Regions from separate parts of the Homo sapiens genome. Here region 1 is linked to region 2. A link means that fine-mapping ties the variant in region 2 to the expression of a gene that starts in the linked region. Tissue or cell type: whole blood. Region 2 holds a variant in brackets; the other region holds the start of a gene. All regions are shown on one strand. Distances are between the middles of the regions.

The links. PIP is the estimated chance that this variant, and not a neighbour inherited with it, causes the effect.
Region 1: ALOX12B starts here. The variant in region 2 is fine-mapped to the expression of ALOX12B in whole blood (TOPMed, PIP 0.99).

What each region holds. Positions count from the first base shown.
Region 1 is chr17:8,083,893-8,091,987 of GRCh38, reverse strand. It overlaps ALOX12B (arachidonate 12-lipoxygenase, 12R type), which reads left to right and starts at 4,272. Exons shown (of 15, transcript NM_001139.3): 1 at 4,272-4,692; 2 at 5,768-5,972. The coding sequence starts at 4,546. It overlaps MIR4314 (microRNA 4314), which reads right to left and starts at 3,932; the gene lies at 3,841-3,932. RefSeq lists an enhancer at 4,496-5,244.
Region 2 is chr17:8,059,397-8,067,497 of GRCh38, reverse strand. No RefSeq gene overlaps it. Among named protein-coding and RNA genes, the nearest start is that of ALOX12B, 24 kb to the left of the region's middle. RefSeq lists an enhancer at 2,650-3,151. The variant G/A (reference allele first, on the strand shown) is at 3,315.

The sequences.
Region 1 (8,095 bases), 24 kb before region 2:
TGAATAGCTGGGATTACAGGCGCGTGCCACAACGCCCGGCTAATTTTTGTATTTTTAGTAGAGACGGGGTTTTACCATGTTGGTCAGGCTGGTCTTGAACTCCCGACCTCATGATCCGCCTGTGTTGGCCTCCCAAAGTGCTGGGATTATGGGCATGAGCCACCGCGCCTGGCCCTTGGATTCATTTCTACGGACAACCCCATTTTAAGCTCTGGTGAACTTTAAGCAGGGGAGTGGCGTGATTTGATTTTTCTTTCTCTGTGTCTTAGGAGAGTGGGTCCCCAGGAGTTAGTTGCTCCTTGCCTTGCAGGGCTTGGGGTGGGGTCAGGCACGGGGGATACCCCAGCAGTGAGAACTCAGCTTCCTGTGTGGATGGCCCCTAGTTAGCAACCCCAGTGAGTGTGAATCCTTCCCAGAAACCTCTCCTCCTCACTGGCTCCCGCCCCTGGTCCAGGAGAACCAGTTCTTCAGCCCAATGAGCACCTATCAAGAGTCACGCGTCTACGTTTTGGTCATAGCTGGGGAGTGCCCCATCTACATCCTCATGCCTGATCCCGTCCCTGTCCCTGCCCCAGCCACATTGACATCCTCAGCATCCCTGCCTCCATCTCCGTCTCCCTCAGGAACCTAATTCCCACTCCACACTGGAGCCCTGAGCAAACCCAGGGCCACCCTGGGATTTGGGTTGGAGGAGACCTATTGGTAGCAGGATATGACTCAGTTTGCCCAGTCCACTGCCCTGCTTCTCACCAAGCCTCAGCAGCCCCCTGGGGACACAGGGCAAAGGGGAGAGATTAGAAAGAGGAAGCTGGGAGAATTTGCATGGAATTTGCATCTTAAGATTTGCATCTTCAGGCTCCCAGCATCCTCCAAGAGTCATCGAGGTGGTTGAGGAGGGAGATCCCAGGGGGGAGATCCAGCTGGACGGCTTCTGTCTGCAGCCCAGGACAGCCAGCCCTGCCACCCAGAGCTGGGCACAACCCTCATCCTCAGCCTTCTCCCCTCTCCTCCCTCCCTCCCCACCCAACCCCTTTCCCTCCCCTACACCACGCCTTGCCCCTTCTCTCACCCTGAGCCCAAGTCAGCTCTCTTCGGATCTTCACCATAACTCCAAAGCCATCATCGATTCAATCCCCAGCCCTGACCTTGTCCTTGTCATTAACCCATTCAACTATGTTTTCGGTGTCTCCCAGGTACCAAGTATGACACCAGGAGATGGGGACAAAACCAAAAAAAAGTATGGACTAATTTATTAGAGAAAACAGACATCAATCAAAGATGTTAGCTATAGTGCTGTGAGAGCCATGTATAGTGAAATTTGGCTTTCCTGGAAAAAGCAATTATTGAGCTAAGATCAGGAGGAAGAGGAAACGTGACCTCAGTTTGAGAGGTAGAGAGGGAACAGCATGTGCCAAGGCCCTGGGATGGTGACGAGCTGACTTCACTTCCTTCAGGTCTTTACTCAAAAGTCTTCTTCCCAAGGAGCCCTCCTTGGCCACTCTGTATCTAAAATATCCTCCTTTTCTTTTTTCTGAGATGGATTTTCGCTTTTGTTGCCCAGGCTTGATAGCAATGGCATGACCTTGGCTCACTGCAACCTCTGCTTCCTGGGTTCAAGCTATTCTCCTGCCTCAGCCCCCGAGTAGCTGGGATTACAGGCATGCGCCACCATGCCCGGCTAATTTTTATTTTTAGTAGAGACGGGGTTACTCCATGTTGGTCAGGCTGGTCCCGAACTCCTGACCTCAGGTGATCCGCCCACCTCAGCCTCCCAAAGTGCTGGGATTACAGGCATGAGCCACCATGCCCGGCACTCCTCTATTTTTTATATTATCCTTCCCTGTTCTCTCTTTTCTCTTCAGCACTTATCACTATTTAACATACTATTTAATGTATTTGGTTACTAGGTAATATTGTCTGCTTCCCTCACTTGAAGGCAAGCTCCATGGGTGCAGGGGTTTGCTTTGATCGCATTGTATTTTCAGGACCTGACACAGCGCTGAACACACAGTAGGGGTTCGGCCAGTGTCTGTTGATGAATGAATGAAAGGCACGTGGTCCCAGACAGAAGAGAGCAAAGGGGAATGTGAGGGGTGAAGCCAATCAGGCAGGCCGTGGGGGCCACGGGAGGGGATGGTGTCACTGTCCCAAAGGTAAAGAGGAGCCACTGCCAGGCTTGATCAGGGTTGGGAGGAGGGAACATAGAGAGTGATGTGAACAGATTTGGGTCTGGAAAAGATCATTTCAATCCCCAACTCCAGCCACATCTGTGTCTCTAACCTAAACCTGAATTGCAGTTTCGACCCCATTCCACATCCAGTCTGGAACCTACTGGAACCTTCTCTTCATCTCACAATCCCAGCCCCCTCTGACCCTAACTTGGCCTGGGCATTGAATGACCTTCCTTCGATGGTGATGGAAGCGTGCCATCAGGGAGGAAAGCAGGGCTATGCTTCCTGGTTGACAGAAGCTGCTCCTCGGAGGTGAAAGGAAAGAGGACAGGTCCAGAAAAAGGGAATAGGAACGTGCCTGCCTCCTCACTCTCCCTGGGTCCCAAATCCTATCTTTGGAGAGTCTATCTCTGACTCTCTCATAATGCTCTTCACCTTACTCCTAACACCTTCTCCCTATCCTGCGGCTCTGACTTCTGTGATTCTATCAGCAACTAGTTCCCAATCCCAACCTCCCACGCTTATTTTCTTCAGAGCACTTAGTATCCAAAATTATAGTGAACAAATTCTTGTTTACTGTTTCTTTCACTTCTTTCCCAGCTATTCCGTAAGCTCCATGTATGTTTCATTTCTTCTCTGCCTCTGCAGTGCCTAGAACGCCGTGCACCGTGCTCACTACATATCTGAGGGAGGAACGACCTGGTTCCCAACAAACACAGTTCCACTGGAGCTCAGCCCTGCCTCCAGCCCTCTTCCTAGCTTCATTCTTTTTTGGGAGGGAAGTGAGGGTATGTACTTTATGAAATTAAAGGATAACACATAATGAAATGAATGAAGTACCCTAGACGCCCCTCAGATCAAGATAAGAACACCTCCAGCAGCCTATATGGCCTCCCTCTGCCAGGGATACTCACCAGTAGAGGTTGTCTGAGAATTGCTCAGTTTTGCTGGTTCTGGAAGTTCCTATCAATGGATAACAGAACGTATCCCCTTTAATGTCTGGCTCTTTTTGCTCAGTATCATCTTTGTGAGACTCATCCGCATTGCAGTTCATTCTTTTTATTCCTGGGTAGAATTCTATTTTATGATTATACCACAAAATATTGATCATATTAATCCATTATTTAACTTAATTCTTTTGTCTTTTTTTTTTGGAGACGGAGTCTTGCTCTGTTGCCCAGGCTGGAGTGCGGTGGCACGATCTCAACTCACTGCAACTTCCGCCTCCTGAGTTCAAGCGATTCTCCTGCCTCAGCCTCCCAAGTAGCTGGGACTACAGGCGCATGCCACCACGCCTGGCTAATTTTTGTATTTTTAGTAGAGACAAGGTTTCACCATGTTGGCCAGGCTGGTCTCGAACTCTTGAGCTCAGGTGACCCACCTGCCTTGGCTTTCTAAAGTGCTGGGATTACAGGCGTGAGCCACCACGCCCAGCTATTTAACTTAATTCTTATGCCCCAGATTTCACTCTGTCTTCTAATTTAGTTTTTTTTTTTTTTTTTTTGGGCTTCTGATTTTATATCCAACTCCAATCCCTCACCAGTGGATCCTGGCCCCACAGGAAGCAACAGATCCCCTTCTCCTACCCTGATCGTTCCTCCCCGCAGCATCTTCAGGCCTTTGGGCACCCATGTGGTCCCCGAGCCCTAGCTTCAACACCTCCCACCCTTCCAGTCACAGACTCTGGGCCCTGGGGCAGAAGGACAGGCCAGCTTTCTCACTGTGGCCACTACCTGTCCCATTTCCCAGAGAGGAATGGCCTGGAGGCTGGCCAGCTGCGCTGCCACTTAGTGCCCCTCCCCCTCCCCTCCCCCGCCCACCAGTGGCCTCAGAACCAATGCAAGTCACTCACTGCCCATGGCCCTGCTTAGTAGGGGTGCCTGGCACTGTAGCCAATGGGGACTGGCAGGAGGAAGGAGCTTATTAGTCTGATAAAGATCTGGGGACCACACCCTGCCCCCTCCCGCAACTTCCCTAGGGCCCTGGCTCAGGCTGGACTGGCTCCCCCACCCTGAAGGCGCCTTCATCCACGGCATCTTCTATCCGCCCTTTCAGAGGCAGGCCCAGTGCCCTGCCTGCTCTTCCTCCCCACCAGCTCCCAGAAGGCTTGGAGCCCAGACACCTGCTCACTCACCACCAGCTGGGCTCCGCCTGGGCCTGCCCGGCACCCACCCCGGCCACCAAGGGCAGCAGCTTTTCCAGAATTTGGCTGGCAGGCCTAGTCACCCCACCTCGCCACCTCACCACTGCACCTCGGAGGCCAGCCCTGTCCACTCCACTCTGTGCCTGGCTTCTCTTGCCTGCCTTGGGCCTTCGTGTGGCCCCTCCACGGTGTCTGGGACTGAGTGCCCCTCTTGCCTCCTGAAGAGCAGCCATGGCCACCTACAAAGTCAGGGTGGCCACAGGCACCGACCTCTTGTCGGGAACACGGGACTCCATCTCACTGACCATTGTGGGGACACAAGGAGAGAGCCATAAGCAGCTGCTGAACCACTTTGGGAGAGACTTTGCAACTGGGGCGGTAAGAGTGTGTGTGTGTGTGTGTGTGTGTGTGTGTCTGTGTGTGTGTGTGTGTGTGTCTGTGTGTGTCTGTGTGTGTCTGTGTGTCTTTGTGGCCCCGGGAGGGGTGAAGGTGCGCAGGGGGAGCCAGGTGAGCTGAGCTTGGCGAGGAGAGGCTGGAGAGCTGAGGCACAGCTCCGAAGGCAGTGGGCTCCCCAGTGGCTCTACACGCCTTGTCCAGAGCTGGCTTCCAGCCCCTCGCCCATGTCCCAGATCTCTGGGCCATCCTTCTCCATCCTGCTCCTTCATCTCTAACCCTTTCAGGCATTCCTCATCTCCCTCCCCATCCTTTTCTTCTCTCTCCCTCTTCCTCAGCCCTCTCTCCCTGTCTCTGCCTATCCTGCATCTCTCTTTTCTCAATCCTTTCCACCTGCTTTCCTTCCCCTTTGCTCTCCTCCCCTTTCTGTCTTACCCCCTCTCCCGCATCCCTCTCTCTTCCATTCTCAGTCACTCTTCCTAATTCAGCTGCCTCCTAACTGTCTCACATTTGCACTGGATTCTCTGTGACTTAAAATGGCATCAGACCAGCCTGTCCAGTGGAAGGCACGCTTTGCGGGTCCTCAGACCTGATTTTCAGTCAGACCCAGCCACCTGCTGCTAGGCGACCTTAATAGGTCACTCTATCTATGTGGCCATTCTGAATATCTGCATCTTCATTGATGAATGGGAGAAGGGGCTGGCTGGGCCTCTCCCCACTCGAAAACTGTAGAGTGGTACCCAAGTCCCCAGGGGTCTGAAGGGTTCCTGCAACCTCAGGTGCCTGGAGAGGGGAGTGGGAGAAGACAGGAGCTGGGGATGGAGAGAAGGAGGGGCTGGAGTCCTACATAGCCCTGGGTAGAGGAATCCAGTAGGAGACCCCCAAGCTGGAGAAGTCAGAAGGAAGCTCAATGATCAGGTCAATATCCTGTCCCTCCGTCAGTCCAGGGAGGTGAGCATTGCGCAGCATGAGCAGGGCCTAGGTGAGGGGCCAGAGGGGTGGGCGGCCTGGGAGCCGGGGTGAAGTCCTGCCCACTCAGCCAGGCTTGCATCCTGCCTAGGTGGGCCAGTACACCGTGCAGTGCCCTCAGGACCTGGGTGAGCTCATCATCATCCGCCTGCACAAAGAGCGGTACGCCTTCTTCCCCAAGGACCCTTGGTACTGCAACTATGTGCAGATCTGTGCCCCCAACGGCCGTATCTACCACTTCCCCGCCTACCAGTGGATGGATGGCTACGAGACCCTGGCACTCCGGGAGGCCACAGGTAAGCCCTCATCACCCTGCTCCATCCTATGGCCGTGAGGCCTCTAGCTCCAGCCTGCTACCCTGGCATGGCACCCAGGCTCCCATCAAGCCAGAGGGGGGCCCAGCCCCACCAGGGACTCCTGGGCTCTCCTGCCACTGTCACACATTTCCCTCAGTCAGTGCTGCTGCCCTGAGCTCAGCTTGGGGCTGCACATTGGAGGAAGAGAGGTGCCTGAGGCCCAGCAGCTACCCTCAGCATCCCCATCTGGCAGCAGACAGCATTCCCAGAGTGCGCTCCCCGCTACCTCTCCAGTCCTCCCTGACTCCTATAAGATGCCCGGCCACGTTAAAAATACCCCTTGTGATGCTAAGTACAGGCTCAGGACTCTCACAGGAGGCCTATTTATGATGCCAATCATATGCGCTCCAGAAAGACGCCCTGTTACTCCAGCAGGATTCTGTTACTATAACAGGATGCCCCATTATTCCAACCAGCACCTTGCTATCCCATTTAGAAGCCCTTTGAGTTCAACAGGTCTCCGTGGTGCTGCGGTCTTATAATTATGACGCCCTGGCTTTCTTTTTTTGAGACGGAGTTTCACTCTTGTTGCCCAGGCTGGAGTGCAATGGCACGATCTCGGCTCACTGCAACCTCCACCTCCCAGGTTCAAGCGATTCTCCTGCCTCAGCCTCCTGATGCTAGTTTTTGCATTTTTAGTAGAGATGGGGTTTCACTTTGTTGGCCAGGCTGGTCTCAAACTCCTGAACTCAGGTGATCTGCCTGCCTCAGCCTCCCAAAGTGCTGGCATTACAGGCATGAGCCCCAGTTTTCTAATTGAGCATTTTTTAGACTGATGGGATGTTCTATTGCTCCAAAGGACTCCCTATTTTCCCAACAGGACACCATATTTCTCTAACAGGATGCACTGTTACTCCAAAAGGCCCCCCTTAATCCAGTAAGGATCTATCTAATAGGGGCCCTGTTATTCAGATAGACTGTCAGGGTTTCTCCAAGGTTAAGGCTGGCCAAGGCTGCCCAGTGGGTTTTCCACTTGCTTGGTTACTCCCATGGGAGAGACATAGGACCGGAGTGGCTGAGCTCCTTGCACCCACCCCTGCCAGAGCCCCTTGTGTGGTGGGCTGGGGTCAGCTTCCTAATTTGTGGTGCTGCATGAGGACTGGGGGCCTGTCCTCTCTTATCTCCCAGTTCCACCACCTGAGTGTCTGTTGGCTTCCCTTGAGGCGAATGGGAGGGAAAGGCTGAGCTGAGGACACCCAGGGCCCGAAGCCCCATCCTCCCTGCAGCTGACTACCTCTCTTCCGTTTCTCATTGCCCTGTGCTGGAATCTTCCCCCAGGATTGGGGAACAGGGCCTGAGCTGGGGAAAGGAGAGGCGAGGAAAGCCTGGGAGATGGTGAGCATGCCAAGGGGAGGGTCTCACTGGGGACACAGAGCATCTTCCTGCAGTGACAGGTCTGGGTGACATGGAAGCAGGGGACAGGCAGGGTGATGCTGGTGGCCAGGCAGGAATGGGGTTGGGTGGGGCCGCTGCCACGCAACAGGACAGGGAGACTTGAGTCACCCATAGGGCCCTCAAAGGAGTGAGTCTTCCGCCCTGGGGATGAAAACGAGCTAGGTCTCTGGGTTGCACAACTCCAGGGAGCACTGTTCATCCAGAATACAACATGAGCTGAGGCAGGTGGAGGAGGGAGAGGGTGGTGAGGTAAGGGACTTGAGGGGAAATGATGGGCTGCAGCGGTAGGCACAGGCCAGCCTGGGGACCACCAGCCAGGGTGCTGGAGAAAGACGGACCTGGACTTAGGTCTCAGTTCTTCCACTGACTAGCTGGACATTTGGGCATATTTTCAAATTTTTTTTTTTGAGATGGAGTCTCGCTCTGTCGCCCTGGAGTGCAGTGGCGCAATCTCGGCTCACTGCAACCTCCACCTTCCAGGTTCAAGTGATTCTCCTGCCTCAGCCTCCTGAGTAGCTGGGACTACAGGCGAGTGCCACCACGCCCGGCTAATTTTTTGTATTTTTAGTACAGATGGGGTTTCACCGTGTTAGCCAGGATGGTTTCGATCTCCTGACCTTGTGATCTGCCTGCCTTGGCCTCCCAAAGTGCTGGGATTACAGGTGTGA
Region 2 (8,101 bases):
AAACCATGGCAACCAACGCATCACTATAGTTTCTGTGCTGGGAGGGCCTGTCAATGCATGGCTCCTGGCAAAGTAGCAGGAGAGAGCACATTCCTCACTCAGCCCTGCCCCTCAGCCCTCACCATCTCAGAACAATGCCCCTCCCTCCACTGGCGCCCGCTCAGCCTGCAGACTGGTCCCAGGGTCCAGCGCAGGGACCATCATGGCATCAGTGACCAGAAAATTCTTTGGGAGTCAGTGACAGCAGTGGATCAGGATGGAGTTGAGGTCATTCAGAAACTAGGAGGTGAAGGAGGCGAAAAAGGTGTCCTCATCCTCCTTCTAGTCTGAAATGCATACTCTGCAGAGGGTAGGCGTGGGGAGAGTCACCCTGGTCCTCTGCCTGCAGCATGGCCACCACTGTCAGACCCATCTCCAACTTCCCAGCATAGCCACTTCCTGATGCTGATGGCTGGGCTGGGCTTCCCTCCTCTCTAGCACAACGGGTTGGATGACTTTACTTTTCCAAGTGGTTTTCTTAGACAACAAAGGATCGCAGGTTTGGTTTCTGCCTGAGGAGTCATCTGAACTCCCTTGGCCCCACCCGTTTTGAGGGAAGCCTAACATGCTCTGTGATGTGCACTAAGACCTCACCTAGGATAAGTTGAATTTGAGAAAACTGGAATACTAAAGAATGCTGGATACCAGAACGGCCCGTCCTTCCGGGCTTCCGCTCAGAGAGGCCCTTTTGATTCCCTGCCAAAACTCACCAGTCCCGGGTCCCATTCTCCTGCTACTTTGTCACAAGGCAGTGTAGATGATTTGTTAAACCAGAGTGATCATTTAATAAGAGGTTGCATTGCTTTGGGGCGTGGCACTGGTGCTAGGGTTTCTGAACCAAGAGTTTGACCTGTATAGTTTAAATGCATCGTGCACCCAGCGGCAACAAGGATATTGGAGAGTGAGCACTACTGAATCTTCCAGCTTGGTTTGCTTGTTTGTTTATTTATTTATTTATTTATTCGGAGTTTCGCTCTTTCGCCCAGGCTGGAGTGAAGTGGCGCAATCTCGGCTCACTACAACCTCTGCCTCCCAGGTTCAAGCAACTCTCCTGCGTCAGACTCCTGAGTAGCTGAGATTACAGGTGCCTGCCACCATGCGTGGCTAATTTTTGTATTTTTAGTAGAGACGGGGTTTTGCTGTGTTGGTCAGGCTGGTCTCAAACTCCTGACCTCAGGTGATCCACCTGCCTCGGCCTCCTAAGCTTAGTTTCCTTCCTTCCTTCCTTTCTTTCTTCCTTTCTTTCTATAGTCTCTCTCTGTCGCCCAGGCTGGAGTGCAGTGGTGCGATCTCCGCTCACTGCTAGCTTTGCCTCCTGGGTTCATGCCATTCTCCTGCCTCAGCCTCCAGAGTAGCTGGGACTACAGGCACCCGCCACCACCCTGGCTAATTTTGTTTTTGTATTTTTAGTAGAGACAGGGTTTCACCATGTTAGCCAGGATGGTCTCGATCTCCTGACCTTGTGATCCTCCTCACCCTGCCTGGCCTGCCTCGGCCTTCCAAAGTGCTGGGATTACAGGCGGGAGCCACCATGCCCCACCCAAGCTTGATTTATTTTCAAGTCTGCATGCCTAGGCCCCCAAGCAAGCAGGCACAATTTTGGAAGGAAAAAGTCTTTCTGCTTCAGCCTTTTTTTCCCCTTAAATTGCTGAGGATATTCAAGGACAGGTGTTCCCAGTGTTGGGGACAGTTTGAAGAAGTAGGTATGAAGTGGGGTGTAGATCAGTACACAGACCCCAGTCCCCTGACTGAATTTCAGCTGCCTCAGGAGCTTGGCTTCCTGTGGGACCGAAGTCACGGGCATCCAGAGAGGGCAGAAAAGTAGCATTGGTGCTTGCCTTGGCAAAGAAGCAAAGTTGTTAGAACTTACTTTGGCCATTCTTTTGGAAGCCCTGATAGGTGAGAATGGCTGGGCAAACATGGGCAATTACCCCACGATGAGAGAGGACATGTTGGGTGGGGCATCCTCCCAGGGTCCTTCAGCCCTGACCTTCTTCCCACACAGAAGCCACTGCTGGGCTGGGCGTGGTGGCTCACCCCTGTAATCCCAACACTTTGGGAGGCTGAGGTGGGCAGATCAGGAGGTCAGGAGTTCGAGACCAGCCTGACCAACATGGTGAAACCCCGTCTCTCCTAAAAATACAAAAATTAGCCAGGTGTGGTAGTGGGTGCCTGTAGTCCCAGCTACTCAGGAGGCTGAGGCAGGAGAATCGCTTGAACCCAGGAGGCAGAGGTTGCAGTGAGCCGAGCACAATGGCAGGACGTGCACATTCTCAGGGCAGAAGTGAGCTTCTTCAAAGGACAGGTAGGAACTGGTGGCAGCACAGAACAAGTCCTGTGATTTCCAGAATGTTCTAATTTTGGCTTTCTGGTTCTCAGTCCCACAAGGTTGCCACCAAGGACCCTCTTGCCCTGCTGCAGCCACCTCGCCCTTCCTCCCTCACCCTGCGGACCTGACACCTTGGTGTGGGGAAGATGAAGGTACACTGATCCCTTTTCCAGACCCCTGGCTGCCCAGCAGTCCTGCAGTTTCAGGGCAGTGTTCCTGCAGAAACAAAGACAGAATGGCCCAGGCTGTGGAGGGGATCCAGGTGCAGAAAGGGAGATCTTAGCCCCCAGCCTCTCCCCTCCTCTCCCCAGACCTGGGGTGGGAGCATCTTTGAACCAGGGTGTTGGCCAGCCCCTGGCCTCTGCGTCTGCTTTGCCTCTTCCCCCAGGGATGGAGAAGCCCTGCCCACTCCACCTTCCCCCCACGGCAGACCCTGCTTCAGCACCTGCTTCAGCACCTGAGGTCGTCCCCATCCGTTCACTGAGCCCCAACTCAACAGCCCAGGCCAGAGGGGACCAAAGAGTAAAGTCGGTGGGAAGAGGAAAGAGAAGACATAGCTACACCCACCACCCCCAATACTGGGCCACGATGTTCTGCCCCCAACCCCTCTGCTTCACAGGCCTGTTCTCTTTCCACCAGCTTCTCCCTCTTCCACTCACTGATCCACCACTCAACTTCCCCACCTAATCCTCTTGTCAGAGCCGGTGCTCCCCTCCCCCACTTATCTTCCATCCTCCCCTCCCTGAGTATGGTTCCTCCCAACCATCCCACCTCCTCCTTCCCGTGCCCCTCATGTCACCTTTCTGCCTCCCCCCTCCCCACTGTGTCCACACCAGCCCCCCTCCCCTGACCCATGACCACCCTGGTCCCCCTCGCTCCCTCCATGCCCCTCCTGCAGCCCCGGCCCTGCCCTTTGCCTGCCCCCTCCAGCCACTGGTAAGGGGGA[G/A]CGGAGGGGGTCCCCAGCAGCCTCAGCTGGACCCAGCGGCAGACCCCGGAGTCTGGGCCGGACCTAGAGGGGGCGAGGCAGCGTGGCGGGGGGCGGGGGGCGGAGGGGGTAGGGGTGAGGTGGGGGAGGCGGGGAGGCCGGCGGGGGGAGGGGTGGCAGAGGGGAGGGGAGGCGGGGGACGCCTTGTGCAAACGCAGCAGCAGCACCTGGCCCGAGTCCTCAGGGAGCGTCACCTGGAGGTCTTCCTTTCGGGGGGCGGGGGAGTGGGCAGAGGGAGAAGGCATAGTAAAGAGTGGCTTATTACCTTTTGTTCCCCAGGACGCTTCCCCTTTCCACACTCTCATTCCGGAGGTCGCCATAAGCAACTTCCACAATTCTGGATGTTCCAGACCCACGACCGGACTAATTTTTGGTGGAGGGGGAGCAGTATCTTTATCTTCCCACTTTAATGGGTATGTTGATTCAAATCTTCTAACTAAAGTGGGGGGATTATATGGATCATTTCTATATTCGATCATAAAGGAGTCCCCAGCGCACCCAGCGTTTTGTCCGGTGCAATTTCTAGCAAAAGATTCCTTAGGAGCCCAGTCTATAATGACCCCATGAGAACCATTTCGCAAAACTACCGCATTATCTGCCACACAAACCTCCCAAGTAAGAATTTCTCATTTTTCTGACCATTCTGGATTCCTTTTAGGGCAAGCCAATCCCTTAGGCTTGCAATTTTGGACTTTTATATTTGACTGATAATAACTATCCCCTTAAGTTTTTACAGTCCTGATGGGTTGAAAAGACATTCCACTCACTACGTGATAACTAGGTTGAGAACGATTATGAGGAGGTACGTAGACCATCCAACTTTGTATTTGTAATGGCAAACATCCAGGAGCAATTCCTAAACAAACTGGAGGGTATTTATACCCAATTATCCCATTCATTAACATGCCCTCCTCCTCAGGCTATGCAGGACAGCTATCATAAGTCGGCCCAGGCATCCAGATACTACCATTTGTATAAACTTCAGTAGGGGAGTCCATCCAAGTGACAGGTCTAATCAAAGGAGGAAATGGAACATAAGCCCAGTAGTAAAATTTTGCTTAGCTGAAACAGCAGAGAGACTTACCGCCGTGGTGATTACCATCAAGGCAGCCAAGATCATATTACCCGGTGTAATCGCTAGTTGTTTCTCCTTTAGGGTGTCCTCTGCCAATTGAGTCAGCTTCTTTATCTGTCCCCATGTCAGTGGTGTAGCCTAGCGAGTCTTCTCCGTCTTCTGTTTTTTCTCCGAGACGCTCAGCTTCACCATTTTCCTCAGCTCCCGAAAAGACAGGTCGAAGGGACCGGTCTTCTTTCTCTTTTGATTCTTTCCTTTTTTCTGACCGGTCGGTGTAGGGTTCATTGTAGAATTTTAAATGTCTATTGGGTATCCAAATGAGTGTTTGATTGTCTCTTGGTGAAACACAAGGAAAACCCCTCCCCCAAGTAATACTTTTTCTTAATTTCCAAGTTTTGGTTCTGGTATCCTTCCACCAGACCATTTTTCCTTTCTGTGGCACACCCATGACTGCAAAACAAGATAATAAATGTCGTTTTACGTGAGCTGTGCTTTCTCCAGTTTGGCGTGTAGCCCAGATAAACCGAGAAAAAGTATTAACAGTAACATGTACGAAAGAAAGTTTTCCGAATGATGGGACATGAGTCATGTCCATTTGCCACACTGCATTTGGTTGAAGCCCCCTAGGGTTACCTTCAGGTTTTTGGGTGGGTAGCTGTAGCACTTGGCACTGAGGATGTTGTACTATATTTTTAGCTTGTTTCCAGGTAAATGAATATTTATTTTTTAATCCAGCAGCATTTACATGAATTAGGGAATGGAAGTTTTGAGCTTTTGTTCGCGTCTGTGTGAAGAGACCACCAAACAGGCTTTGTGTGAGCAACAAGGCTGTTTATTTCACCTGGGTGCAGGTGGGCTGAGTCCGAAAAGAGAGTCAGCGAAGGGAGATAGGGGTGGGGCCCTTTTATAGGATTTGGGTAGGTAGTGGAAAATTACAGTCAAAGGGGGTTGTTCTCTGGCGGGCAGGGGCGGGGGTTGCAAGGTGCTCAGTAGGGGAGCTTCTGAGCCAGGAGAAGGAATTTCACAAGGTAATGTCATCAGTTAAGGCAGAAACCAGCCATTTTCACGTCTTTTGTGATTCTTCAGTTGCTTCAGGGCATCTGGATGTATACGTGCAGGTCATAGGGGATATGATGGCTTAGCTTGGGCTCAGAGGCCGGACACTGTTAGAACAGGCGTCACTAATAAATTTGCTTGATTATTTAATAGGGTTAAAGGTCCTGGTAAGTTTGTGTGAGCCTAAATATGTGTAATATAAAAGGGAAAATTTTGAGTCCTAACTGCTTGTTGAAGTGAACTAAACAAGAAATTTAACTGATCATCAGAAATATGTTTTACTAAAGCTGTTTTTACCATTTTGGCAGCTTGGAATACGTAAGCAGAGTCAGAGATTATATTAACAGGTTGATTACAATCTTCCAATACAGATATAACTGCTTGTAGCTCAGCTCTTTGTGCAGAATGAAACTGAGTTTGAATAATCTTTTCTTCCGGTCCTGTATAAGCTGCTTTTCCATTCTGAGAGCCATCAGTAAAGATAGTTACGGCTCCCTCCAAAGGAATGGAACTAGTTATTTTGGGTAAAATTTAGGTAGTCAATTTTTAGGAACTGAAACATTTTAGTTTTAGGGTAATGAATATCTATACTGCCAACAAAATCAGCCAGATTTGACTGCCATTCTGACGAATTAATAAAGGCTTGTCGAACCTGTGCTTTGTTTAAAGGAACTACATTTTTATCTCGATCGGTGCCAATGAGTCTGACTATTCTCAGTTGTATTTGGCCTATAAGAATAGCTATTTGATCTAAATAAATTGAGAAAGTTCTAGTCGTACTGTGCGTTAAAAAGGACAATTTAACTAAGTCAACATTTTGAACAATCACTCCTATAGGAGAATGGAGAGTAGGGAACACTAAGAGCTGTAATGGAACACTAGGATCTCTTCTACGGACTTGAGCACTTTGAATTTTTTCCTCAATCATTTGTAACTCTTCAGCTGCAGCAGGCATCAGAGTTCTTTTGCTACATGAATTTGGATCCCATCTCAGCAAAGCAAACAGTTTAGACATTGCTTAGGTGGGAATTCCTAAAGTAGGTCTTATCCAATTAACGTCCCCTAATAATTTTTGGAAATCATTTAAGGTTTTTAAGGACTCTTTACGAATTTCCTCCTTTTGAGGCTTTACTGTTTTCTCCTGTACCCTCATTCCCAGGTAATGATAGGGTGTAGTATGGATTTTATCTGGTGCTATAGCGAGACCTGTAAGTCCCACCACTTCTTGTAGCCTAGCAAAACACTCAATCCGTCTGTCCCTGCTTGCAGCAGCACATAAAATGTCATCAACATAATGAATAATATAGCAATCAGGAAACTGATCCCTGACAAGCTGAATAACCTTTCCAACAAAAGTTTGACTATTTAACATTCCTTGGGGTACAACTTTCCATCGATATATAGTAGCTGGTTCCTTGTTATTCATGGCAGGTATTGTAAATGCAAATTTCTCAAAATCCTGAGGAGCCAAAGGAATAGTAAAAAACACAATCTTTTAGATCAATTATTACCATCGGCCATTCTTTTGGGATCATGGCCGGAGATGGCAACCCTGGTTGGAGAGCTCCCATCGGTTGAATGGCTGCGTTAACCGCTCATAAGTCGGTCAATATGCGCCATCTAGCGAATTTTTTCTGAATTACAAAAACTGGGGCGTTCCATGGTGAAAAAGATGGTTCAATATGTCCTTTGTCTAATTGTTCTTTTGCCAATGAATGTAATGCCTCCAGTTTTTGTTGAGGAAGCGGCCACTGATCAACCCAAACAGGTTTTGGAGTTTTCCGTTTTAATGCAATGGGCTTTGGAGGCTCAACAGTGGCCGCACCTAAGAAGGATATCCAATTCCTCTTCGGTCAAATTTAACTGAGACCTCAATCGGCTGGGTTATTCCGTCCTCATTTTTTTCCTAATCCTTTCCCAGGAATATATCCCATTTTGGTCATCATTCTTTGGCTCTCAGGACTGTAAATTGCAGGGGGAATGGTGATTTCTGTACCCCATTGCTGTAACAAATCTCTCCCCTACAAATTAATGGGAATGAAAGTAATCATAGGTTGGATGGTGACTTCCTGCCCATCTGGTCTTAAACGATGTAAAATTGTAGCACTTTGATAGACTTCAGATGCTGTGCCTACTCCAATCAAGCCCATAGAAGCCTTTTGTCGGGGCCACGCTTTTGGCCACTGATTTAGAGCTATAATTGAAATATTAGCACCTGTGTCTACCAGTCCTTCAAACTGTTTTCCCTGAATCATTGTGCACACAGGTCTGTTTTTAGAAGCTTGATTTACTCAATAGGCTGCTTTTCCTTCACTGTCAGTACTGCCAAAACCACTTTCTCTTTTTACTGTACTTTTTTCTACTATTACATAAGGTAATAACAACAGCTGAGCAATTCTATCTCCTGGGTTTGCACTCCAAGGAATACTGGAACTAATAACCAATTGAATTTCTCCCACAAAATCTGAATCAATCAGCCCAGTATGAATCTGAACTCCTTTTAAGTTTAGACTAGATGTTCCTAAAACAAGTCCAACTGTCCATCAGGTAAAGGGCCAAATACTCCAGTGGGGACTTTTTGAGGGGATTTCCCTGGAAGCAGAGAGATAGCTTTTGG